Homo sapiens: one gene and its partners. The protein of the gene in region 1 interacts with the protein of each later gene in a biochemical or structural test. Each region holds a gene or a part of one and is shown in the gene's direction. Other genes may lie near its edges. The genes, in order: MAPK8, HNF4A, GSTP1 and STAT3.

Region 1 (7,037 bases):
CTTTGTATTGTAAGTCATATCAGGATTTCTTGGGGGTTAGCATTATCTTAAAACCACAAAAAACAATAACTTTAGACCTAATTGGTTTCATGACTTATTGAGGAGGCGAGGAATAGGTTAAAGCTGCTTTGCATACATTTTGGAATAGTCTCTTTTGTCTAGTAAGGATGGATAAGTTTGTTAATAACCAGTATTCACATGGGTAGAAAAAAAGTGTCTTGATTTTTAATCCTACAAGTAGTAAAGGAATGGTAGTCAGAAGTTGAATCGTACTTTTAATGCCTCAGGCAGGATAGAATAGTATTGTTTTGTTTTGTATCCCAATATGCCTAACTACTTCTCTCTCTCTCCTTTCTGTTTTGCTTCTCATCCTTTCACCCATTACAGTCTCAGTATGTGTGTTACACCAGGAGGTTGCCTTGGCAGGTCAGAGGATCTGTCACAGTGAAGGCACTGTGGTACCCTTTGTTTTTTAGGCAAGGATGACACATGCTAGTCAACTTATTTCCATTTGTTGTTCCCTCCACTTGGCACTAAATGAGACTTAACCATTTTTGAATCAAAGTTTATAAATTTCTTACAAAAATTAAGGTTTTTATTCTCTATAATAAGCACATGAGAAAGACTGGTTTTAAATTTTAAACTGTGGAGTGACGTAAAAACATGTTTAATTTTAATTATTTGCTTTCTTTTGTTCGTCTTGTAAGTTATTAATGTATTAATACTGGTAACTTCTAGATTGGAGGAATGATTTATCCTAATGTTTCTTTTTTAAAAAAAACTATCAGTCATTCATATGGCATATGCTAATCAAGGCTCTGCGGTATTTTTTTTCTTATGTTTTTTAATGAAGCAGCTCTTTTCATGATCTAGCAGTCTGTGTTACTATCAGTACGTAAACAGTAAGGACTCAAATTTTAAGATTAAAACAAGTTCATTTTGTTAACATCATGTTTTGTTGCATCTTGCAGCTTCTTGGTGAATTTTTGGATGAAGCCATTAAATTAATTGCTTGCCATCATGAGCAGAAGCAAGCGTGACAACAATTTTTATAGTGTAGAGATTGGAGATTCTACATTCACAGTCCTGAAACGATATCAGAATTTAAAACCTATAGGCTCAGGAGCTCAAGGAATAGTATGGTAAGTGTTTACTTCCAAAAATTAGGCAAAGAATCATTAACTGCTACCTTTTCTCCTCTCGTAATTTAGATACCTTGGCAAATATTTAACTTGCTTTGAAAAATTAAATTAAAACTAAAAATTAAACGAAAACTATTCCACAGTAAATTGTTTGCTTCAGGATCAATGGTCTTTTCTTTATTATTATTATTAAAGGTTGAGTATCCCTTATCTGAAATGCTTAGGACCAGAAGTGTCAGATTTTGGAATATTTGCATTGGTTGAGCATTCCAAATTCAAATCAGAAATACTTCAGTGAACATTTCCTTTGAGCATCATGTCAGTGCCCCCAAAATTTAGATTCTCGAGCATTTTAGATTTCATATTTTCAGATTTGGGATAATAACCTGTATTATTCATAAGATACAACTCTATAAACTAGCACTGCCATCTTTAAGTATAAACTATGATTAAATACTTGGGCATAGCCATTGAAGACAAATATCTCTATCAGCAAAGAATAAGTGGCATGCTTGTTAATTTCATGTATACATGTATTCCCATAGATAATTGTTTAATAAGAAGCTTCACTTAGTCATCACTTTCACACTATAATGAAGCGTGGAATTTCAGAAATCTTATTCTATACTGGGGAATGAAGTCAGCTAATATCTCACTGTGTGTGTTTCAAAATTCATCCATATGTTTAAAATTGATTTATTAGCTAATTTCTACAAAAGCCTCAGGCTATATCAGCATAATTCTTTATAAACTGAAATGCAGATCACTCTTTGGGATAGTTCTGATACTGATTGCAGATCACTAAATTAGCATAATAATAAACTAGTGTTTTGGGGAATTATAAGCCTCACTCAAGAATAATTATATTTTTATTACCTCTTCTTGAAACAAATTTCAGAATCTATTCTAAACAAAATGTAAACTGTTAAGTATTTATAATCCAGTATTTCTCCTAGGTTCTAAAAAAACTGTTTTACATGTGCACAGGGAGTCATGCATAGGATTGGTGTTTGCAGCACCATTTATAACAGCAAAAATTGGAAATAGCATCAAATCTATCAACAGAAGAATAAAAAATTGTGATACAGTCATGCTGTGAAATACTATATAACATTTTAAACGAACTGGAGCCATATGTGTCAACAAGGATAACCTCAGAAATGTAGTGCTGGGCTTCAAAGCAAGATGTAGAATATATATATACATCATTATACCATTTACATGTAGCTTAAAATATGCAAAGCAGTACCATATATTTATGGATTATATATATGTACAAAAGATTAAAACATGCATAAATACCAAACTTAGGATGTTGTTTATCTCTGAGAAAATAGAGAAAAGAAAGGAGGTTTGACCTATAATATTATATTTCTTTCTAAAAAATTCAGAGCAAGCCGGGCGCGGTGGCTCACGCCTATAATCCCCGCACTTTGGGAGGCCGAGGTGGGTGGATCATGAGGTCAGGAGTTCAAGACCAGCCTGGCCAACATGGTGAAACCCTGTCTGTACTCAAAATACAAAAATTAGCTGGGCATGGTGGCACATGCCTGTAATCCCAGCTACTTGGGAGGCGGAGGCAGGAGAATAGCTTGAACCCGGGAGGTGGAGGTTGTGGTGAGCTGAGATGGTGTCACTGCACTCCAGCCTGGGTGATAGAGTGAGACTCCGTCTAAAAAAAAAAAAAAAATCAGAGCAATTATGGTAACGTATTAAGATTTAATAAATTTGCATAATAGAATGGCATTTATTATCTTTCCTGCATTCTTGAAGTAATTTACAATATCAAAAATTATAGAAGTTGGAGTCATTTTGTAAGCCGTTTTGACTGGCCTGTTCTCATTGTAACCAACCACATTTAACCAACCATAAATTAAATTTAAAGAAAATCATATTATATAGTCAGTATTAGGATTCTGAAAGCCAGCTCTCTGTTCAGATTTTGTTTTTTGTTTTTTGTTTTTTTGTTTTTTTGTTTTTTTTTGAGACAGAGTCTCACTCTGTCGCCCAGGCTAGAGTGCAGTGGCGTGATCTTGGCTCACTGCAAGCTCCGCCTCCCGGGTTCACGCCATTCTCCCGCCTCAGCCTCCGGAGTAGCTGGGGCTACAGGTGCCTGCCACCACGCCCGGCTAATTTGTGTGTGTGTGTGTGTGTGTGTGTGTGTGTGTGTGTGTGTATTTTTAGTAGAGACAGGGTTTCACCATGTTAGCCGGGATGGTCTCGATCTCCTGATCTCGTGATCTACCCGCCTCGGCCTCCCAAAGTGCTGGGATTACAGGCGTGAGCCACTGCGCCTGGCCCTTCTGTATTTATTTTATTGTGTCCAAAAGGATAGAAGTAATGTGTTTACATAGAATTATTCAGCAAATCTTTTGAGTAGAATTTATATGCTTTTTTTTTTTTTGAGGGAGTCTACCAGGCTGGAGTGCGGTGGTGCGATCTTGGCTCACTGCAACTTCCGCCTCCCAGGTTCAAGTGATTCCCTTGCCTTAGCCTCTCAAGTAGCTGGGACTACAGGTGTGCACCATCACACCCAGCTAATTTTTTTGTATTTTAGTAGAGGCGGAGTTTCACTGTGTTGGCCAGGATGGTCTCGATCTCCTGACCTCATGATCCACCCACCTTGACCTCCCAAAGTGCTGGGATTACAGGCGTGAGCCACTGCACCCAGCCTCGTATGCATTCTTTATCCTACCTTTTCTTGATGGAAGTACAAGGTTAAGGATTTATTTAGGCTTTAGGCTATCTAGTGGAGCTAAATAATTATGGATTTGTACATTGAGTGCCCACGATGTACTAGGTGGATCTTTGAGGCAACACAACGAACATGCAGGGTCTCTGTTGGCATAGTCCACTGTCTATTTGGATCCATTAGCATTTTAGGAAATAGTTGCAAAAAAATATATGTTGTAATAGATATAGAAGACACATGTTGAGCGTCATAGACTTGGAAGGGATCCAGTTACTTGTCTTTGGAGAAAGTGAGAAATGTATATGACTGTTTCATGAATTCAGTTTACAGATTTTTGCTTGAAGTTTTTTTGTGTGTTTTTGAATTTCTTATTACAGCGCAGCTTATGATGCCATTCTTGAAAGAAATGTTGCAATCAAGAAGCTAAGCCGACCATTTCAGAATCAGACTCATGCCAAGCGGGCCTACAGAGAGCTAGTTCTTATGAAATGTGTTAATCACAAAAATGTAAGTGAACATTTTTGGTTTCCTAAGTATAGATGAAATCAAGATTTATTCATGAATATGTGAATATCAAAGACTAAATATTAGGGGCTTTAAATTGTTCTGTATTAAAACATTGTTTAAAAGGGATATATATATATATATATATATCTACAGGGTGATTTTCCTCAACTTTATTAAATTGTATCAGAAGAATGGCTTCTAAAATTTAGATTATATGATTTCCTGTCATTTAATTTACAAAAGGAGTTTTAAAAAGATAAGCGTTTGAGAAGAATTTTATTCAGCTTGATCTCATCTTCTGCTTTTTGTTCTCCGTCAGGCTGACATTTAGAAAACTGTAGCATTAGCACAGAGATGAAATTGTTCCCATTATGCTTTGACACTCTGACTTTAATCATATTGAATATAAAATTTATATCACTTCTCCCTACCCCACTCCCACCTCTTTAAGTGATGGCAGTATTCACTGATCACTTTATGATGAGGATAGTGGGTTTAGCAGAAAGTGTTTGAAACTATCTAGAGGGTATTAACATGTTTCTAATTCTATTTTCTAATGATTGCAAAGATAAGTCTTTATAAAGATATATAAGTTGCACTCATTTTGAGAATAAACAGTTATACTTTTTTAAACTTACATTAAGCTTATTCATACTTTTGTGATTGTTCTAATGGAATGATTTCTTCAGTTGAGGAAATAAACTAGGAGTGAATTGTGTAAGGGACACTTTTAGGCAGTCCTAAACCGAAGGCATCTGACTAAAGACATTTCGTAGTGTTTGTCCAAAAGAGTTTATATAATATAATGAGCACAGTACCTTCTGACTACAGATAATACAATTTACCACATTTTGAGATCTAAATATGTGCAGGCCTCTGTGTATTGGAGTTACTGGGTTCATTATCAAGGGAAAAAAAAATCATGGAAGTTCAGGATTAGGCCCTTTATTTGGGGAGCTTACAATGGTGTTTTGAATACAAAACAGACATACAGAGAGTTAAATATCAAACATCACAAAGCAGTGGCCGTTTGTCAAATGATGATGGTGGCCCATATATTGAAATCTAAAAAGAGGGACGATTTCTGTGAGCTTTAATTAACTGGGAAGGCTTTGGGGAGGAGTAGACCTAGGCTGACTCTTAAAGATGGGGTAAAAATTGGATTGTTGAAGGAAAGGAGCCTTCAGAGAGGAAGAATGACGTAAAAAAGGTCCAGAGACAAAGATTAAACTTAGATAATAATAGGGAGGAAGTTGTGGTAGCCATTCTTGTTCCAAGCGGGAACTTGATGTGTTGCTCATCACAGTTTTGCTGGTGGCATCCTGTCCATGGATAGAGCTGCTCGTGCCCCTTGTGGCCTGTGAACGCAGTTCCATGGCAGTGGTGGTGTTGCCTTAGTTTTTCCTTGGGGAGGAGTTCAGTTAATCCTACCTCTCAAGCCTGGGTGACTGCAAAGAAAGGTGGTTCCTTCAACTGCATGGAGTATGACTAAGCATGTCTCACATGATTAGGCCTCTAGCAGGGGTGGCAGAGGTTTATCCAGGCAGAACTCTCAGCACCTAGAAGAGTGTGGACAAGAGTAGGTACTCAGAATATATTTGTTCAGTGAGTGAGTATAAAGCTAAATATGGGAAAACTGGAAATGGTAACTGAATTATTCCACTCACCCATGGATGGATGTTTTTGTAGTGTTTTGCCTTTTAAACAATTTCATCCTCTGTACAGATTGTCTCTTCACTGGTCTAAGCATCTCTGGTTTTTCTCATTCTTTTCATAGATGGTCTTGAGTTTCTTTTTTAATCTTGGCCGTTTATCTCTGAACACACTTTGAAAGTGACCTAGCACACACTACTGCATAAGCCACCTAGCACACAGTACTGCACGTCTGATCAAATCCTCTGAGAGGAGCTGAGGCATGTCATCTCTTAACTGTAGACATTAAAACCCTGTTTAGAAATTTCGTCCCCATCTGACTCCCGTTGTCTTTCTTTGTTACAGGCCTGCCTTACAGTTCCCATCTCACCCAGTCTTTATATTTTTTCTTTTGATTATGGAGAATTAAGTATAGTACTTCATGTTTCTCCCTATTAAATTTCAAAGGTGAAATGTGGTTGCTCTTCCTGGTCTACTAGTGATTGCTGTGATTGCTTTTTTCTTCCTTGTTCTGACTTTTCACTTGTGGGCTTCACTTCCCAGTTTTGCTCAGGATATCTTTGTAATAGCTGGATTAATTCATTAGCAACTTTTGAGCATATTGCAGAAATTACGTGTCTAACTATCACAGTTATCCAGCTGTTTCCAATTCATCATCTTATTCACATGGATGTTATTATTAGAAACATTTTGTAAAATGCCATTTTGAAATCTTCATATACTGTGTCTGGTTGCATTTTTCTGATTTATTGCTATTGTTCTTTGTTGTTTTTATTCATGGAAGGAAATAGTATTTCTCAATGAACTTTTACCTGCTCTTGGTAATTGTTACTTCTTTTGAAGTAGTTATATACCACTACTAATCATTGACTTTTGCTTGGCTGTCCAGTCTATAACTGATATAATTTCCTTTATTTCCCTTTTTGAAAAATGGGACAACTATCTGTTTGAATCTCTTTTATAACAGCTTTATTGAAATATAATTTCTGTGTCATGCAATTCACCCATTTGAAGTATACCATTCAGTGGTTTTTAGTATATTC
Region 2 (7,037 bases), on another chromosome or scaffold:
GGCCCTCCCAAACTTCCAGTCCATTCTGCTCCCAGGGGAACCGGGAAACTGCGGGGGAACTGGAAGGGAGCTCCCAGAACAAGGATCCAGAAGATTGGCATCTGGGGCCTGGGATTTAGGTTTCTAAATCGTGGGCCATGGGGCAGCCTTATCTCTGCAAAAGCATTGAGGGTAGAAGTCAATGATTTGGGAAGTTATTGAATTAGGGGATCTCGGAGGTAGGCTGTCAGTGCCTGATAGTATCAGTTAGAATGCCTGACTTGGGGTGACAATGGCTTGGAGGGGTGGGTGAGTCAAGGGTCAAATGAGTGCCCGTGAGTCATGATGCCTGCCTTGTACAATTGATAACTGAACATCGGTGAGTTAGGGCCCCAGCAGTTGTAATTAGCACCCCGGGTGTCAGCCAGAAACCAACAAACAGCCAAATCCCTGCAGCCCCGCCCAGCCTATCCACCGGCGGGGGACCGATTAACCATTAACCCCCACCCCTCCCCGGCAGAGCCTCCACCCCTTCACAGAGGCTAGGCCAAGACTCCCAGCAGATCTTCCCAGAGGACGGTTTGAAAGGAAGGCAGAGAGGGCACTGGGAGGAGGCAGTGGGAGGGCGGAGGGCGGGGGCCTTCGGGGTGGGCGCCCAGGGTAGGGCAGGTGGCCGCGGCGTGGAGGCAGGGAGAATGCGACTCTCCAAAACCCTCGTCGACATGGACATGGCCGACTACAGTGCTGCACTGGACCCAGCCTACACCACCCTGGAATTTGAGAATGTGCAGGTGTTGACGATGGGCAATGGTAGGTGGGGGCAGATGTGCCCAGGTGTGCCAGTGGGGGCAGGTGTGCCTGGGTCCAGGAGCAGATCTTTGGCACTCAACTTTGGGGTGGGAGGAGAATGATACAAAATGGTAGGTTGGTCCTACAGGCCAGCACAGGTGTTGCCAAGTGAAGCCCATGTGCCCAGGCACAGTGATCACAGGCATTCTGGGTGAAGGGAGGCCTGCAAGGGCCAATTTCCAGCAAAAGTCGATCCCGGCTATTCCTCCCAGGCCCTTCCAGTCCTCACTGCCTCACAGTGGCTCTGCTTGGCGCTTGGCACAGTGACGTGATGGTGAGCTCCCCCTTGGTGCCCAGCTCCAGCGATTCAGCCCAGCACGGCCCCTTCGTGAACCCCTTGGGCCTAGGTTCAGAGAGACGGCAAGGGATGTTGTATCCCTGGAGATGGTGGTTGGAGACATAACCGCATTTCTCGGTGTCTTTGGGACTTTCCTAGGGAAATGAAATTGGCACTTAGGGAAAATGGAGCTCTCAGGGAAGTTTTGCTAACTACGAAGCCAACTCAGCACTGTGTGTGTTGTGTGTGCGTTCGTGTGTGATAGTGAGTTTCCATGTAGGTTGTATGGGTGGGGTGATGCCTTCAGGAACCCATTTGCATATGTGTGTTCATTTGTCTCTGTGTGTGAGTTCTGGGTCTATTTTCCTTTGTATTCATTGAGTGGGTCTGTGTTTGTGTCTTAGGAGTTGCCCGTGTTGATCTTGCTTATGTATGTAAGTGTGTATGTGTGTGTACTTGTGTCTGTGGATGTTTGTACATGTGTGCTGTGTGTGCGGGTCATAGAGCACATGCGTTTGTGCATGCGGACCTGTTGGAGTGCCCTGTTCTTCCTGCATCTTTATCCTGTATGGGCGTTTTGTCGTGTGCCCATATTTGTACCTGCTGTGTATATATGCAGTTCCCTGTGCTGCGGGCGGGGGTCAGCGGTCTCTGGTGTGCACGACTGCACAGACCCAAATGCAGGACTCTGTTGTTGCCACTCACCAAGTGAGATTCATATCAGCAACATGTCCGTTTGTCTCTGAGCAGATTTTGTTGCCGCTGCGTCTCGCCAGATTGAGGCATCCCCTCCGACATCACTGGAGCATATCTGGAGGGGTGGACAGTTCTCCACAGGGAGGTAGGGGAAAAGAGGAGGCCCGGAAACCCCTCCTGGAGGGAAGAGCCCCATCGGTCCCAGGCCAGCCTCAGAGGAGAGGGGGCAGGCAGCTGGCTGAGGTCAGCCTGCCACCCTGCTTCCTTCTGTGTCTTGGAGCCACTCAGCCAGTATGAGGCTGCAGCTCCAGCTGAGGTCTGGAATCTTGTGGTCAGCTCAGCTAGGGTGAGGAGGCAGCTGCTGGGCACTGCTTGTTGTCAGCTCAGCAGGTGCTCACCTGCCCCTGCCGTCCAGTCACGTGTGACCTTGGGCATGTCACCTCCCCTATCCTGGCTTCTGTATCTTCTACAAAACAGGCTTCATTCCCCCAGGCCTGCTGGCTGGACGGCTTTTAGGCCTGTCTGAGGACCACGCCAGGAGCGCAAGGCAAAAACACACCAGAGATAGCAAACAAGCTGCTGCTGCACTAGGTGGAGTGTTGTGTGGCCCCACGAGGACCACTGCCCTGCCCTGGGCTGCTCCCCGCCCCCATCACTTTTTCCAAGCCCAGGAACTGTGTGCTCCTGAGGCAGAGGCCAAGCCCCTGAACTGGGAGTCCCAAAGACAAGACCACCTCCAGCTCTGGAACCAGAAAGATCTGGGCTCAAATCCGGCATAGATCCTTCCAACCTGTGTGAATGTGGCAAGGCAATTTCCTCTCTGAGCCTCAGTTTCCTCACCTATAAAATGGGAATAAATAATAGTGTCTGTCTCCCAGGGCTGGCCAGAGGATAAATAAGATGAGGTGCCTGGGTGCTTAGCCCTGGTAAAGGGCCTGGCCCCACCATGGGTCATCTCAAGGGCTCTGAGCATCTGTAAGCAGGGTCCCCACATTCCTCACTGGAGTTTGAAGTGGTCTGAATTGGGGTTATGTGAAGTTGTCCTCTGAAGTGTTTTGAGTACATCCTGGGCTGGTGTCTGAAAGGCTCCAAGGATATTTCTCCCCCGTCCTCTCCCCACCCCAATGGAGCAGCAGCCCTGGGTGGCTCCTTGTTCATTAGAGGCCCAGCAGACACCTCAACATGTGTGGCACTGGCTGGAGTAGCCCAGCAAGCCTGGACCATAAACCCATGGCTCTGCTTCACGGGAAGCAGTGCGATGACACCAGGAAGCCACTTTTCCTCTCTAAGCCTCAGTGTCCTCATCTGTGGAATAGAGGTGCTCGGCTGACCTCAGAGGGGAGATGATAGAGCTGACAGCCCCCAGCCCATCCTGCCTCAGAGGTGGGAGCTACTTCCCCAGCCTCCTGCTGAATGGCCAGGAGCTGTGGGGGTCAGCTCTCCCCGGGGGTCGGGGGAGGAGAGGCCGAGGGAGAAAGGGCACCCACGTGGCTTAACAATTATCCCCATCTCCAGGAATAATTCACCAAGTGGAGGGGGCTGCACTCCTGGGGACACCTGGGAGTCTGCGATGGCAGAAATGAGATGCGGCAGTGTCTGCTTGTGCAAGGAGCCTGGAAGTCCTCTGCTCCGAGAGTTTTCCTATGTGGAAAAGTTTTTATTTCATGAACACTGATATAGTGCTTACTATGTGCCAAGCACTTCACATACACATATGAGAATTCACCGAATCCCCATAACGAACCTAGGGGAATATCACGTTCCCCATTTTACAAGTGAGGAAACAAAAGCATAGAGAAGTAAACGAACACAGTCAATGTCACACGGCTAAAAAGTGGGCAAGCTGGAATTGAACCCTGGGCAGAAGGACTTCAGAGGCTGTGCTGTTACCTACAGTGCATGGCCCTCTCTGGGTCTTAACTGGATGCCCCTGAGGAATCCAAGGTTGGATTCAGGATTTCTATGAATACACGTGTGTGTGTGTGTGTCTGTGTATGTGTGTATGTTTGTGCATGTGAGCATGTGTGTGTGGACTGTGTGTATGTGTATGTATATGTGTGGACTGTATGTGTGCACACATTTGTATATGTGTGTGTTGATGTGTTTGTATGTATGCATGTGTGTGGACTATGTGCAAGTGTGTGCAATGTATGTGGACTGTGTGCATGTGTGGACTGTGTGTATGTGTGTGCATGTGTGTGGAGCGTGTGTGTGCTTATGTGTGGACTCTGTGTTCATGTGTGTGTACTGTATGTGTACACATGTGTGTATATATGTGTGTGTGTGCGTGTGTCTGTGTGGTGTGTGGACTGTGTGGTGTGTGTGAACTGTGGTGTGTGTGTGCGTGACTGTGTGGTGTGTGTGCGCGTGTGTGTGACTGCTTGGTGTGTGTGAACTGTGGTGTGTGTGGTGTGTGTGTGCTTGTGTGTGGTGTGTGTGCGTGTGTGGGAACTGTGTGGTGTGTGTGGACTGTGGTGTGTAAGGTGTGTGTGTGCTTGTGTGTGGTGTGTGCGTGTGTGTGGACTGTGTGGTGCGTGTGTGTGCTTGTGTGTGGACTGTGTGGTGCGTGTGTGTGGACTGTGTGGTGCGTGTGTGTGCTTGTGCGTAGCGTGTGTGCGTGTGTGTGGACTGTGTGGCACACACGCTTGCATTTTCCCGGGGGCTGACCCATTGCATTTGTCATCTTCTTCAAAGGGGTCTATCTTTGCTGAAAGATTTGCTGACAAATAAAGGGGGTTCAGCTGCTGCTATTTTTTTAAATTTGGAAACAAATTTTTTAAATTTTTTAAATTTTTTAAATTTGGAAACAGACCAGTCAAACTGCTGCCTTTTATGGTTAGAGAAAATGAGGCCCAGAAGAAATTGAAGCAGGGAAAGCGAAGTTGCCCAAGTTTACAGGCGAGTTAGTGGCAGCATCAGCAGTAGTGCCCAGGACTCCTGGCACCCAGCCCAAGATCCTCTTTCCACCTGCCTCTACGGCCCCCCTCACATTTGTGTAGATGCAGTAGCTTTTGCCTGTGGGATGGGAGGGATGGGAGATGTGTCCAGACCCTCCTAGGAGGCCACATGAGTGTGACTGTTCTCGGCCCAAGTCTTTCTCGTTCCTCAGAGAATTTGCGGGGCCCCTGGGCACACAAGCTGAGATCCACCCAGCCCTGGTCCCTTGGCAAGAACTGAGGGACAGGACCTGGTTCTGGGGAAAATGCAGGGGAATGTTTCTCCCTTCCACAGCCCCCTTGCGAGTTAGGAGGCCGGCTCCCACCCCAGAAGGTGGCCAGGTTTTCATGCCTTCCTAGAGAAAGCTGGGGCTCGTGGCCTCCACCACAGGAAGACGCAGACCCTCAGAAACAAGTCTGTGAAGTCACAACCAGCCCCAGTTTACAGATGTGAAACTGAAGCTCCAAAAAGTCAGGAGGTCACTGAGTGGGGAGGTGATGGAGTGGGAACAGCCCCCAGATCTGGCTGAGGCCGAAGCCCTGGAGAGATCCCCGCAAGGCTCCCTTAGATGCCTGACATTCTGTTCTTCCTGAAGCCTCACTCCCTTCTCTCCTGGCGCAGACACGTCCCCATCAGAAGGCACCAACCTCAACGCGCCCAACAGCCTGGGTGTCAGCGCCCTGTGTGCCATCTGCGGGGACCGGGCCACGGGCAAACACTACGGTGCCTCGAGCTGTGACGGCTGCAAGGGCTTCTTCCGGAGGAGCGTGCGGAAGAACCACATGTACTCCTGCAGGTGAGGAGCCTCAATTTCTTCAGCTGGGAAATGGGCACACTTGGGCTCATGGCCCCAAGGTCTGTCTTCTCCCTGAGTGGGTAGGTCCCAGAGACAGCTGCCCTTCAGGGCCTTCAAGGCTCTTCTGGTTTTGTAAAAGACTTTGTGAATCCAAGAAGAGCATCTATTCTAGGAACCACATTTACTGATCATCAAGCTACTGGCTGCCGTTTATTGAGCTCTTATCATATGCCAGGCACAATACTAAGTCTTTGTGTGTATTTACCCATCCCCTTGAGCCCATTGTTGTTTTTCCCATTCCATGGGGCCTCTCCTGAAGCCTCAGTAGATGAGCCCGTCTTCCAGTCTGGTGCTGTTTTTGGGACAAATAGGAGATTGACCCCAGGCCGTTCCACCTACCCCAGGGGCTTCCACCAACCCCAAAGTCTTCCCAAGGCCTTGGAGAGCCCTCTTTCGAAAGCATCTCCTGTTCTGGGTAATGACAATAATAAAATCATAGCAGCTGTCAATTGCGAGCACTTGTCATGTACAAAGACTGTGCCCCATCGGCGCATGACTTCATTTCACCTGTCAACACCCCTGTGAGATGGTTACTGTTGTTATTCCCATTTTATAGAGGAGGAAGCTGTGGCTTGGAGGGCTAGGCATTTGCCCAAGGTCAACCAGCTTGAATCACTGGCAGAGCCAGGGTTAACATTCAGGGCCCCACCCATCACCACGGTGTGGCACTGCCTCTACTTCCTATCCCCCTCCAGAGAGAGGCTTATGTGAACCGAGTATTAACTCTGAGCCATAACCAGGAGCCTGCTATGGGTTCTGAGCTTTTATAGGATGTGGTGGAAATAGCAGGGCTCTGGTACTCCAGAGGTCAAGGTTCCCAACTCAGCTCTAACACCAACCAGCAGAGCGACCCAGGACCACATGTTGCCTCTCTGAGCCTCAGTTTTCCCATGTTTAGCAGGACAGGACTGGGCTCTTAGAGAGTTCATAGCACCTTTCCAGCTCCTGGTGGGTTCAAGAGAGAACTCCCGGGATGAAGAGATGAGAGCACTGAGGTTGGGGGGTCAACTGGATAGCCAGGGCCCTAGTTCTGTCCTAAGAGGAGGAAGTTGTGTCTTCTCCATCCAACCATCCAAAGCCCTCCCCAGATTTAGCCGGCAGTGCGTGGTGGACAAAGACAAGAGGAACCAGTGCCGCTACTGCAGGCTCAAGAAATGCTTCCGGGCTGGCATGAAGAAGGAAGGTGAGCCTCGGCCCTCCCCGCCCCACCACCACTGCCCCACCTGCACCCACAGCTCCCCGACAGTCATTTACAACTGTAGCCACACTTTATGACTCAGTGGCAGGCCCCAGGGTGACTGGCTAATGGCTGAGAAGAGGGAGGGCCTGGAAATCTGACCATAGGGAGCGGCTGGGCTTGGTCTTGAGAAAGATTCAGAGAGATAAGCTCCCACTCTTGGCTCCTCAGGCTCCCAGCAACCACCACCCCTGCCTGCCTGTCTG
Region 3 (7,289 bases), on another chromosome or scaffold:
CAGAAGGAAGGAGTTTGCATTCAGTTCCTTTATTAGTACTCTCTGGAGTTGTTGAGGGGATGTCACTGCTGAACACTGACCCTGGTGCAGGCTAAACCGAAGTTAGCCTCTGCTACCCTCTGCTGGGTGAGGCACTGGGGAGAACAGTGGGACTGAATGGGGCGGGCTTTCTCCCTCCCACACTTCCCCTGGAAACACCCAGCACCAGCACATTAGAACATGGGGAGCCACCTTCCCCAGCGCTGCTTCCCAAGGTTCGGAAGGGGAAACTCTGACCTCAAGCTCTGTTTGAAGAGCGATAGCAAAGGGGAGAGGTTGGCTGTGGTTTGGTGGTGCTTATCTCCTTCCTTTGCTTTGAAACCACAGGCTGGCATACTACCCGAGAGAATGACCAGTGCCACCAAGGGAAGGGCACAAGCTCACTGGTTCCAGGGGAGACATCTCAGGGGACAGGAACATCCCCTGACGCTGAATGAGTGCAGCACACAGACGGAGAATACACACAAGAGAAATCATGAGGACATGAGAGAAGGCACTGGCAATAGGAAGTTACAAAAAGCAACAAAAAGAAAGAGTAGATATAAAAACAATAATCGAAGAAAGCCAACAACAGATGGGATGAATCATACGAGGTATGCGACTCATGGATGAAGAGGTGAGTGATGAGATCAGCTGGGGAACTCTCTCCCAGGAAAGACAAACCAGAAGAAACACAAATGACATCGAAGTGGCCAGGCGCAGTGGCTCACGCCTGTAATCCCAGCACTTTGGGAGCCCGAGGCAGGTGGATCACTTGAGGTCAGGAGTTTGAGACCAGCCTGGCCAACATGATGAAACCCTGTCTCTACTAAAAATACAAAAATTAGCCAGGTGTGGTGGCAGGCACCTGTGATCCCAGCTACTCAGGAGGCTGAGGCAGGAGAATCACTTGAACCAGGAAGCAGAGATTGCAGTGAGCTGAGATGGTGCCAGTGCACTCCAGCCTGGGCAGTAGAGTGACAGCCTGTCTAAAAAAAAAAAAAGGCAGTAAAGTGATAGGAGGATAGATTAGAAGGGCCATTTTCCAGATAGTGCAAGGAAGAAAGAAGAAGAAGAAGAGGAGGAGGAGGAGGAAGAGGAAGAAGACGGAGAAGAGGGCATCTCAGAAGAAACAATGGAGATACATTTCTCAAAACTGAAGAAAGATGACCAACCTCAGACCGAAGGGCCAAGAGGCCAAACCAGAGAGACAGCTTGGCAAGCCAGGAAGAGCACCAAAGCTAGACAATTAGAGTGAAATTAAAGAAAACCCAAGGTGACAAAAATTTAAAAAGCTTCCTTGTGACCTCAGTCCATTGGTGAAAATTTAAAAAAAAAAAAAAAAAAAAAAGGACAGCCTGGGCAACATGGTGAAACCCCATCTCTACAAAAAATACAAAAATTAGCTGGGTGTGGTGGCACATGCCTGTAGTCCCAGCTATTCGAGAGGCTAAGTAAGGCAGGAGGATCACTTGGGGCCAAGAGTTCCAGACCAGCTGCGGCAACATACATGTTGTGGGAAGTCAGGCACCCCGAACGGAGGGACTGGCTGAAGCCATGGCAGAAGAACATAAATTGTGAAGATTTCATGGACATTTATCACTTCCCCAATCAATACTCTTGTGATTTCCTATGCCTGTCTTTAATCTCTTAATCCTGTCATCTTCGTAAACTGAGGATGTATGTCGCCTTAGGACCCTGTGATGACTGCGTTAACTGCACAAATTGTTTGTAGAGGACAATTGTTGTGTGTTTGAGCAATGTGAAATCTGGGCATCTTAAGAACAGGATAACAGCAATTTTCAGGGAACAAGGGAGATAACCTTAAAGTCTGGCTGCCTGTGGGCTGGGCAGGACAGAGCCATACTTCTCTTATTACCGCAAACAGGTAAGAGAAATATCGCTGAATTCTTTCCCCAGTAAGGAATATTAATAATTAACAGCCCTGAGAAAAGAATGCATTCCCAGGGCCGGGCCACTGAAATGGCCTCCCTGAGAGTGCCTGCCTTTATTCAGAAGTAGAAAGGGATGAAACACGCCCTAGTCTCCTGCAGCACCCCCAGACTTGATAGGATTAGGAAATTCCAGCCTGGCAAATTCTAGTCAGACCGGTTCTCTGCTCTTGAACCCTGACAGTGCGTGCACAGTGGGACCTGGAAGTTCATTAGTGATTCTAGTTTCGCCGTGACCTTCTGCCCTGTGATCTTTTGTCGCCCTTGAAGTATGTGATCTCTGTGACCCACACCCTGTTCGTGCACTCCCTCCTCTTTGAAAATTGCTAATAAAAACTCGCTGGTTTTACGGCTCAGGGGGCATCACGGAACCTGCGGACATGTGATGTCTCCCCTGGACACCCGGCTTTAAAATGTCTCTCTTTTGTACTCTTTCCCTTTATTTCTCAGGCCAGCCGACACTTAGGGAAAATAGGAAAGGACCCACGTGAAATATTGGGGGCTGAATTTCCCCCGATAATAAGTCTCTTAAAAAAGACTTTTAAATGAAATTTCTTTGTTTTTTAACTTTTATTTCTGTTTTGGGGGTACATGTGAAGGTTTGTTACATAAGTAAACTCGTGTCTTCGGTGTTTGTTGTACAGAATATTTCATCACCCAGGTATTATGCCGAGTACCCAATAGTTCTCTTTTCTGCTCCTCTCCTTCCTCCCATCCTGCACCCTGGAGTCAACCACAGTGTCTGTTGTTTCCTTGTTTGTGTTATAAGTTCTCATCATTTAGCTCCCACTTACAAGTGAGAACATCCAGTATTTGGATTTCTGTTCCTGCATTAGTTTGCTAAGGATAATAGCCTCTAGCTCCATCCATGTTCCCACAAAAGACATGATCTAGTTCTTTTTAATGGCTGCATTAAATGAAGTTTTAAAGATACAACATAAACACCAACCTCTTCCCCACCACAAAAATCCCTTGCTGAATTTGATTACACTTAAATTAACGAGTTTTGTTTCATGAAAGACTCCTTGGACAAACTTGACAGTTGATGGAATAGGAGAAGCTGTCTGTCATGTCTAAAGCCAACAAGAGATCAATATCTAGAATAAATGGAGATCTGCAAATCAACAGAAAGTAGGCAGCAAAGCCAAAGAAAATAGCCTAAGGCACAGCCACTAAAAGGAACGTGATCATGTCCTTTGCAGGGACATGGGTGGAGCTGGAAGCCGTTAGCCTCAGCAAACTCACACAGGAACAGAAAACCAGCGAGACCGCATGGTCTCACTTATAAGTGGGAGCTGAACAATGAGAACACATGGTCACATGGCGGCGATCAACACACACTGGTGCCTGTTGAGCGGGGTGCTGGGGAGGGAGAGTACCAGGAAGAATAGCTAAGGGATACTGGGCTTAATACCTGGGTGATGGGATGATCTGTACAGCAAACCATCATGGCGCACACACCTATGTAACAAACCTGCACATCCTCTACATGTACCCCAGAACTTCAAATAAAAGTTGGACGGCCAGGCGTGGTGGCTCACGCCTGTAATCCCAGCACTTTGGGAAGCCGAGGCGTGCAGATCACCTAAGGTCAGGAGTTCGAGACCAGCCCGGCCAACATGGTGAAACCCCGTCTCTACTAAAAATACAAAAATCAGCCAGATGTGGCACGCACCTATAATTCCACCTACTCGGGAGGCTGAAGCAGAATTGCTTGAACCCGAGAGGCGGAGGTTGCAGTGAGCCGCCGAGATCGCGCCACTGCACTCCAGCCTGGGCCACAGCGTGAGACTACGTCATAAAATAAAATAAAATAACACAAAATAAAATAAAATAAAATAAAATAAAATAAAATAAAATAAAATAAAATAAAATAAAAAAATAAAATAAAATAAAATAAAATAAAGCAATTTCCTTTCCTCTAAGCGGCCTCCACCCCTCTCCCCTGCCCTGTGAAGCGGGTGTGCAAGCTCCGGGATCGCAGCGGTCTTAGGGAATTTCCCCCCGCGATGTCCCGGCGCGCCAGTTCGCTGCGCACACTTCGCTGCGGTCCTCTTCCTGCTGTCTGTTTACTCCCTAGGCCCCGCTGGGGACCTGGGAAAGAGGGAAAGGCTTCCCCGGCCAGCTGCGCGGCGACTCCGGGGACTCCAGGGCGCCCCTCTGCGGCCGACGCCCGGGGTGCAGCGGCCGCCGGGGCTGGGGCCGGCGGGAGTCCGCGGGACCCTCCAGAAGAGCGGCCGGCGCCGTGACTCAGCACTGGGGCGGAGCGGGGCGGGACCACCCTTATAAGGCTCGGAGGCCGCGAGGCCTTCGCTGGAGTTTCGCCGCCGCAGTCTTCGCCACCAGTGAGTACGCGCGGCCCGCGTCCCCGGGGATGGGGCTCAGAGCTCCCAGCATGGGGCCAACCCGCAGCATCAGGCCCGGGCTCCCGGCAGGGCTCCTCGCCCACCTCGAGACCCGGGACGGGGGCCTAGGGGACCCAGGACGTCCCCAGTGCCGTTAGCGGCTTTCAGGGGGCCCGGAGCGCCTCGGGGAGGGATGGGACCCCGGGGGCGGGGAGGGGGGGCAGACTGCGCTCACCGCGCCTTGGCATCCTCCCCCGGGCTCCAGCAAACTTTTCTTTGTTCGCTGCAGTGCCGCCCTACACCGTGGTCTATTTCCCAGTTCGAGGTAGGAGCATGTGTCTGGCAGGGAAGGGAGGCAGGGGCTGGGGCTGCAGCCCACAGCCCCTCGCCCACCCGGAGAGATCCGAACCCCCTTATCCCTCCGTCGTGTGGCTTTTACCCCGGGCCTCCTTCCTGTTCCCCGCCTCTCCCGCCATGCCTGCTCCCCGCCCCAGTGTTGTGTGAAATCTTCGGAGGAACCTGTTTCCCTGTTCCCTCCCTGCACTCCTGACCCCTCCCCGGGTTGCTGCGAGGCGGAGTCGGCCCGGTCCCCACATCTCGTACTTCTCCCTCCCCGCAGGCCGCTGCGCGGCCCTGCGCATGCTGCTGGCAGATCAGGGCCAGAGCTGGAAGGAGGAGGTGGTGACCGTGGAGACGTGGCAGGAGGGCTCACTCAAAGCCTCCTGCGTAAGTGACCATGCCCGGGCAAGGGGAGGGGGTGCTGGGCCTTAGGGGGCTGTGACTAGGATCGGGGGACGCCCAAGCTCAGTGCCCCTCCCTGAGCCATGCCTCCCCCAACAGCTATACGGGCAGCTCCCCAAGTTCCAGGACGGAGACCTCACCCTGTACCAGTCCAATACCATCCTGCGTCACCTGGGCCGCACCCTTGGTGAGTCTTGAACCTCCAAGTCCAGGGCAGGCATGGGCAAGCCTCTGCCCCCGGAGCCCTTTTGTTTAAATCAGCTGCCCCGCAGCCCTCTGGAGTGGAGGAAACTGAGACCCACTGAGGTTACGTAGTTTGCCCAAGGTCAAGCCTGGGTGCCTGCAATCCTTGCCCTGTGCCAGGCTGCCTCCCAGGTGTCAGGTGAGCTCTGAGCACCTGCTGTGTGGCAGTCTCTCATCCTTCCACGCACATCCTCTTCCCCTCCTCCCAGGCTGGGGCTCACAGACAGCCCCCTGGTTGGCCCATCCCCAGTGACTGTGTGTTGATCAGGCGCCCAGTCACGCGGCCTGCTCCCCTCCACCCAACCCCAGGGCTCTATGGGAAGGACCAGCAGGAGGCAGCCCTGGTGGACATGGTGAATGACGGCGTGGAGGACCTCCGCTGCAAATACATCTCCCTCATCTACACCAACTATGTGAGCATCTGCACCAGGGTTGGGCACTGGGGGCTGAACAAAGAAAGGGGCTTCTTGTGCCCTCACCCCCCTTACCCCTCAGGTGGCTTGGGCTGACCCCTTCTTGGGTCAGGGTGCAGGGGCTGGGTCAGCTCTGGGCCAGGGGCCCAGGGGCCTGGGACAAGACACAACCTGCACCCTTATTGCCTGGGACATCAACCAGCCAAGTAACGGGTCATGGGGGCGAGTGCAAGGACAGAGACCTCCAGCAACTGGTGGTTTCTGATCTCCTGGGGTGGCGAGGGCTTCCTGGAGTAGCCAGAGGTGGAGGAGGATTTGTCGCCAGTTTCTGGATGGAGGTGCTGGCACTTTTAGCTGAGGAAAATATGCAGACACAGAGCACATTTGGGGACCTGGGACCAGTTCAGCAGAGGCAGCGTGTGTGCGCGTGCGTGTGCATGTGTGTGCGTGTGTGTGTGTACGCTTGCATTTGTGTCGGGTGGGTAAGGAGATAGAGATGGGCGGGCAGTAGGCCCAGGTCCCGAAGGCCTTGAACCCACTGGTTTGGAGTCTCCTAAGGGCAATGGGGGCCATTGAGAAGTCTGAACAGGGCTGTGTCTGAATGTGAGGTCTAGAAGGATCCTCCAGAGAAGCCAGCTCTAAAGCTTTTGCAATCATCTGGTGAGAGAACCCAGCAAGGATGGACAGGCAGAATGGAATAGAGATGAGTTGGCAGCTGAAGTGGACAGGATTTGGTACTAGCCTGGTTGTGGGGAGCAAGCAGAGGAGAATCTGGGACTCTGGTGTCTGGCCTGGGGCAGACGGGGGTGTCTCAGGGGCTGGGAGGGATGAGAGTAGGATGATACATGGTGGTGTCTGGCAGGAGGCGGGCAAGGATGACTATGTGAAGGCACTGCCCGGGCAACTGAAGCCTTTTGAGACCCTGCTGTCCCAGAACCAGGGAGGCAAGACCTTCATTGTGGGAGACCAGGTGAGCATCTGGCCCCATGCTGTTCCTTCCTCGCCACCCTCTGCTTCCAGATGGACACAGGTGTGAGCCATTTGTTTAGCAAAGCAGAGCAGACCTAGGGGATGGGCTTAGGCCCTCTGCCCCCAATTCCTCCAGCCTGCTCCCGCTGGCTGAGTCCCTGGCCCCCCTGCCCTGCAGATCTCCTTCGCTGACTACAACCTGCTGGACTTGCTGCTGATCCATGAGGTCCTAGCCCCTGGCTGCCTGGATGCGTTCCCCCTGCTCTCAGCATATGTGGGGCGCCTCAGTGCCCGGCCCAAGCTCAAGGCCTTCCTGGCCTCCCCTGAGTACGTGAACCTCCCCATCAATGGCAACGGGAAACAGTGAGGGTTGGGGGGACTCTGAGCGGGAGGCAGAGTTTGCCTTCCTTTCTCCAGGACCAATAAAATTTCTAAGAGAGCTACTATGAGCACTGTGTTTCCTGGGACGGGGCTTAGGGGTTCTCAGCCTCGAGGTCGGTGGGAGGGCAGAGCAGAGGACTAGAAAACAGCTCCTCCAGCACAGTCAGTGGCTTCCTGGAGCCCTCAGCCTGGCTGTGTTTACTGAACCTCACAAACTAGAAGAGGAA
Region 4 (2,656 bases), on another chromosome or scaffold:
TAGAGGGAGAAAAAGGAAATGTCTTGTGTTGTTTTGTTCCCCTGCCCTCCTTTCTCAGCAGCTTTTTGTTATTGTTGTTGTTGTTCTTAGACAAGTGCCTCCTGGTGCCTGCGGCATCCTTCTGCCTGTTTCTGTAAGCAAATGCCACAGGCCACCTATAGCTACATACTCCTGGCATTGCACTTTTTAACCTTGCTGACATCCAAATAGAAGATAGGACTATCTAAGCCCTAGGTTTCTTTTTAAATTAAGAAATAATAACAATTAAAGGGCAAAAAACACTGTATCAGCATAGCCTTTCTGTATTTAAGAAACTTAAGCAGCCGGGCATGGTGGCTCACGCCTGTAATCCCAGCACTTTGGGAGGCCGAGGCGGATCATAAGGTCAGGAGATCAAGACCATCCTGGCTAACACGGTGAAACCCCGTCTCTACTAAAAGTACAAAAAATTAGCTGGGTGTGGTGGTGGGCGCCTGTAGTCCCAGCTACTCGGGAGGCTGAGGCAGGAGAATCGCTTGAACCTGAGAGGCGGAGGTTGCAGTGAGCCAAAATTGCACCACTGCACACTGCACTCCATCCTGGGCGACAGTCTGAGACTCTGTCTCAAAAAAAAAAAAAAAAAAAAGAAACTTCAGTTAACAGCCTCCTTGGTGCTTTAAGCATTCAGCTTCCTTCAGGCTGGTAATTTATATAATCCCTGAAACGGGCTTCAGGTCAAACCCTTAAGACATCTGAAGCTGCAACCTGGCCTTTGGTGTTGAAATAGGAAGGTTTAAGGAGAATCTAAGCATTTTAGACTTTTTTTTATAAATAGACTTATTTTCCTTTGTAATGTATTGGCCTTTTAGTGAGTAAGGCTGGGCAGAGGGTGCTTACAACCTTGACTCCCTTTCTCCCTGGACTTGATCTGCTGTTTCAGAGGCTAGGTTGTTTCTGTGGGTGCCTTATCAGGGCTGGGATACTTCTGATTCTGGCTTCCTTCCTGCCCCACCCTCCCGACCCCAGTCCCCCTGATCCTGCTAGAGGCATGTCTCCTTGCGTGTCTAAAGGTCCCTCATCCTGTTTGTTTTAGGAATCCTGGTCTCAGGACCTCATGGAAGAAGAGGGGGAGAGAGTTACAGGTTGGACATGATGCACACTATGGGGCCCCAGCGACGTGTCTGGTTGAGCTCAGGGAATATGGTTCTTAGCCAGTTTCTTGGTGATATCCAGTGGCACTTGTAATGGCGTCTTCATTCAGTTCATGCAGGGCAAAGGCTTACTGATAAACTTGAGTCTGCCCTCGTATGAGGGTGTATACCTGGCCTCCCTCTGAGGCTGGTGACTCCTCCCTGCTGGGGCCCCACAGGTGAGGCAGAACAGCTAGAGGGCCTCCCCGCCTGCCCGCCTTGGCTGGCTAGCTCGCCTCTCCTGTGCGTATGGGAACACCTAGCACGTGCTGGATGGGCTGCCTCTGACTCAGAGGCATGGCCGGATTTGGCAACTCAAAACCACCTTGCCTCAGCTGATCAGAGTTTCTGTGGAATTCTGTTTGTTAAATCAAATTAGCTGGTCTCTGAATTAAGGGGGAGACGACCTTCTCTAAGATGAACAGGGTTCGCCCCAGTCCTCCTGCCTGGAGACAGTTGATGTGTCATGCAGAGCTCTTACTTCTCCAGCAACACTCTTCAGTACATAATAAGCTTAACTGATAAACAGAATATTTAGAAAGGTGAGACTTGGGCTTACCATTGGGTTTAAATCATAGGGACCTAGGGCGAGGGTTCAGGGCTTCTCTGGAGCAGATATTGTCAAGTTCATGGCCTTAGGTAGCATGTATCTGGTCTTAACTCTGATTGTAGCAAAAGTTCTGAGAGGAGCTGAGCCCTGTTGTGGCCCATTAAAGAACAGGGTCCTCAGGCCCTGCCCGCTTCCTGTCCACTGCCCCCTCCCCATCCCCAGCCCAGCCGAGGGAATCCCGTGGGTTGCTTACCTACCTATAAGGTGGTTTATAAGCTGCTGTCCTGGCCACTGCATTCAAATTCCAATGTGTACTTCATAGTGTAAAAATTTATATTATTGTGAGGTTTTTTGTCTTTTTTTTTTTTTTTTTTTTTTGGTATATTGCTGTATCTACTTTAACTTCCAGAAATAAACGTTATATAGGAACCGTCTGATAGCATGGCAGCTCTGTTTGGCTGGTGGAGGCTTCCTTTTCCCCTGCATAAGTTCTGAGGGGGCCTCACACACAGGTGGGGCCTGGGATAAGGGCCGGAAAGGGTCTTGAGAGGAGGTGGTTGCCTTAATCCCCCCCGCCAACCCCCTTATGTTAGCCACCAGCCCGGAGGTAAGGGGTGCCTGGAGGAGCAGGAGGTCAATAGTCCAACGGCAGAAAGGTGTCAGAGTGGAGGCCTCCCTCCCCGGCCCCCTCCTACCCCCCAGAGCGGCCTCGTCCTGTCTGGGGTCAGATAAGCCACCTAAGCGGGGTGGGGGGTAGATACTCCCACCGCACCAAGGCCTCCCCTTCCACAGTTGGCTCCTTTATCACTTTCCCTTCAGTTCACCCAGCGGGGACAACACGCAGACACCCGGTGGTGGCTGCAGGGCCCCCGGCAGCCAGCGGTGATAATGCAGGGAAAGGCGCCCCAACCTCAGCTACGCGGGCGCCCACAGGGCT

The links.
Region 2: of the proteins of MAPK8 (region 1) and HNF4A, one has a biochemical effect on the other in vitro, tested with the Homo sapiens proteins (one study listed by IntAct).
Region 3: the proteins of MAPK8 (region 1) and GSTP1 form a complex in vitro, tested with the Homo sapiens proteins (2 studies listed by BioGRID).
Region 4: of the proteins of MAPK8 (region 1) and STAT3, one has a biochemical effect on the other in vitro, tested with the Homo sapiens proteins (2 studies listed by BioGRID).

The regions. Positions count from the first base shown.
Region 1 is NC_000010.11:48,400,641-48,407,677, forward strand, and holds part of MAPK8 (mitogen-activated protein kinase 8), read left to right. Parts: intron 1-971; 5' UTR 972-1,020; coding exon 1,021-1,142; intron 1,143-4,211; coding exon 4,212-4,341; intron 4,342-7,037. UniProt on the Homo sapiens protein: Serine/threonine-protein kinase involved in various processes such as cell proliferation, differentiation, migration, transformation and programmed cell death.
Region 2 is NC_000020.11:44,400,699-44,407,735, forward strand, and holds part of HNF4A (hepatocyte nuclear factor 4-alpha), read left to right. Parts: exon of another isoform or gene 1-674; coding exon of another isoform or gene 675-789; intron 790-1,855; coding exon of another isoform or gene 1,856-1,946; intron 1,947-5,359; coding exon 5,360-5,534; intron 5,535-6,682; coding exon 6,683-6,777; intron 6,778-7,037. UniProt on the Homo sapiens protein: Transcriptional regulator which controls the expression of hepatic genes during the transition of endodermal cells to hepatic progenitor cells, facilitating the recruitment of RNA pol II to the promoters of target genes. Activates the transcription of CYP2C38.
Region 3 is NC_000011.10:67,579,530-67,586,818, forward strand, and holds GSTP1 (glutathione S-transferase P), read left to right. Parts: upstream 1-4,282; 5' UTR 4,283-4,314; coding exon 4,315-4,315; intron 4,316-4,604; coding exon 4,605-4,640; intron 4,641-4,934; coding exon 4,935-5,041; intron 5,042-5,155; coding exon 5,156-5,243; intron 5,244-5,608; coding exon 5,609-5,712; intron 5,713-6,574; coding exon 6,575-6,682; intron 6,683-6,859; coding exon 6,860-7,048; 3' UTR 7,049-7,124; downstream 7,125-7,289. UniProt on the Homo sapiens protein: Conjugation of reduced glutathione to a wide number of exogenous and endogenous hydrophobic electrophiles. Involved in the formation of glutathione conjugates of both prostaglandin A2 (PGA2) and prostaglandin J2 (PGJ2).
Region 4 is NC_000017.11:42,312,821-42,315,476, reverse strand, and holds the end of STAT3 (signal transducer and activator of transcription 3), read left to right. Parts: 3' UTR 1-2,153; downstream 2,154-2,656. UniProt on the Homo sapiens protein: Signal transducer and transcription activator that mediates cellular responses to interleukins, KITLG/SCF, LEP and other growth factors. Once activated, recruits coactivators, such as NCOA1 or MED1, to the promoter region of the target gene.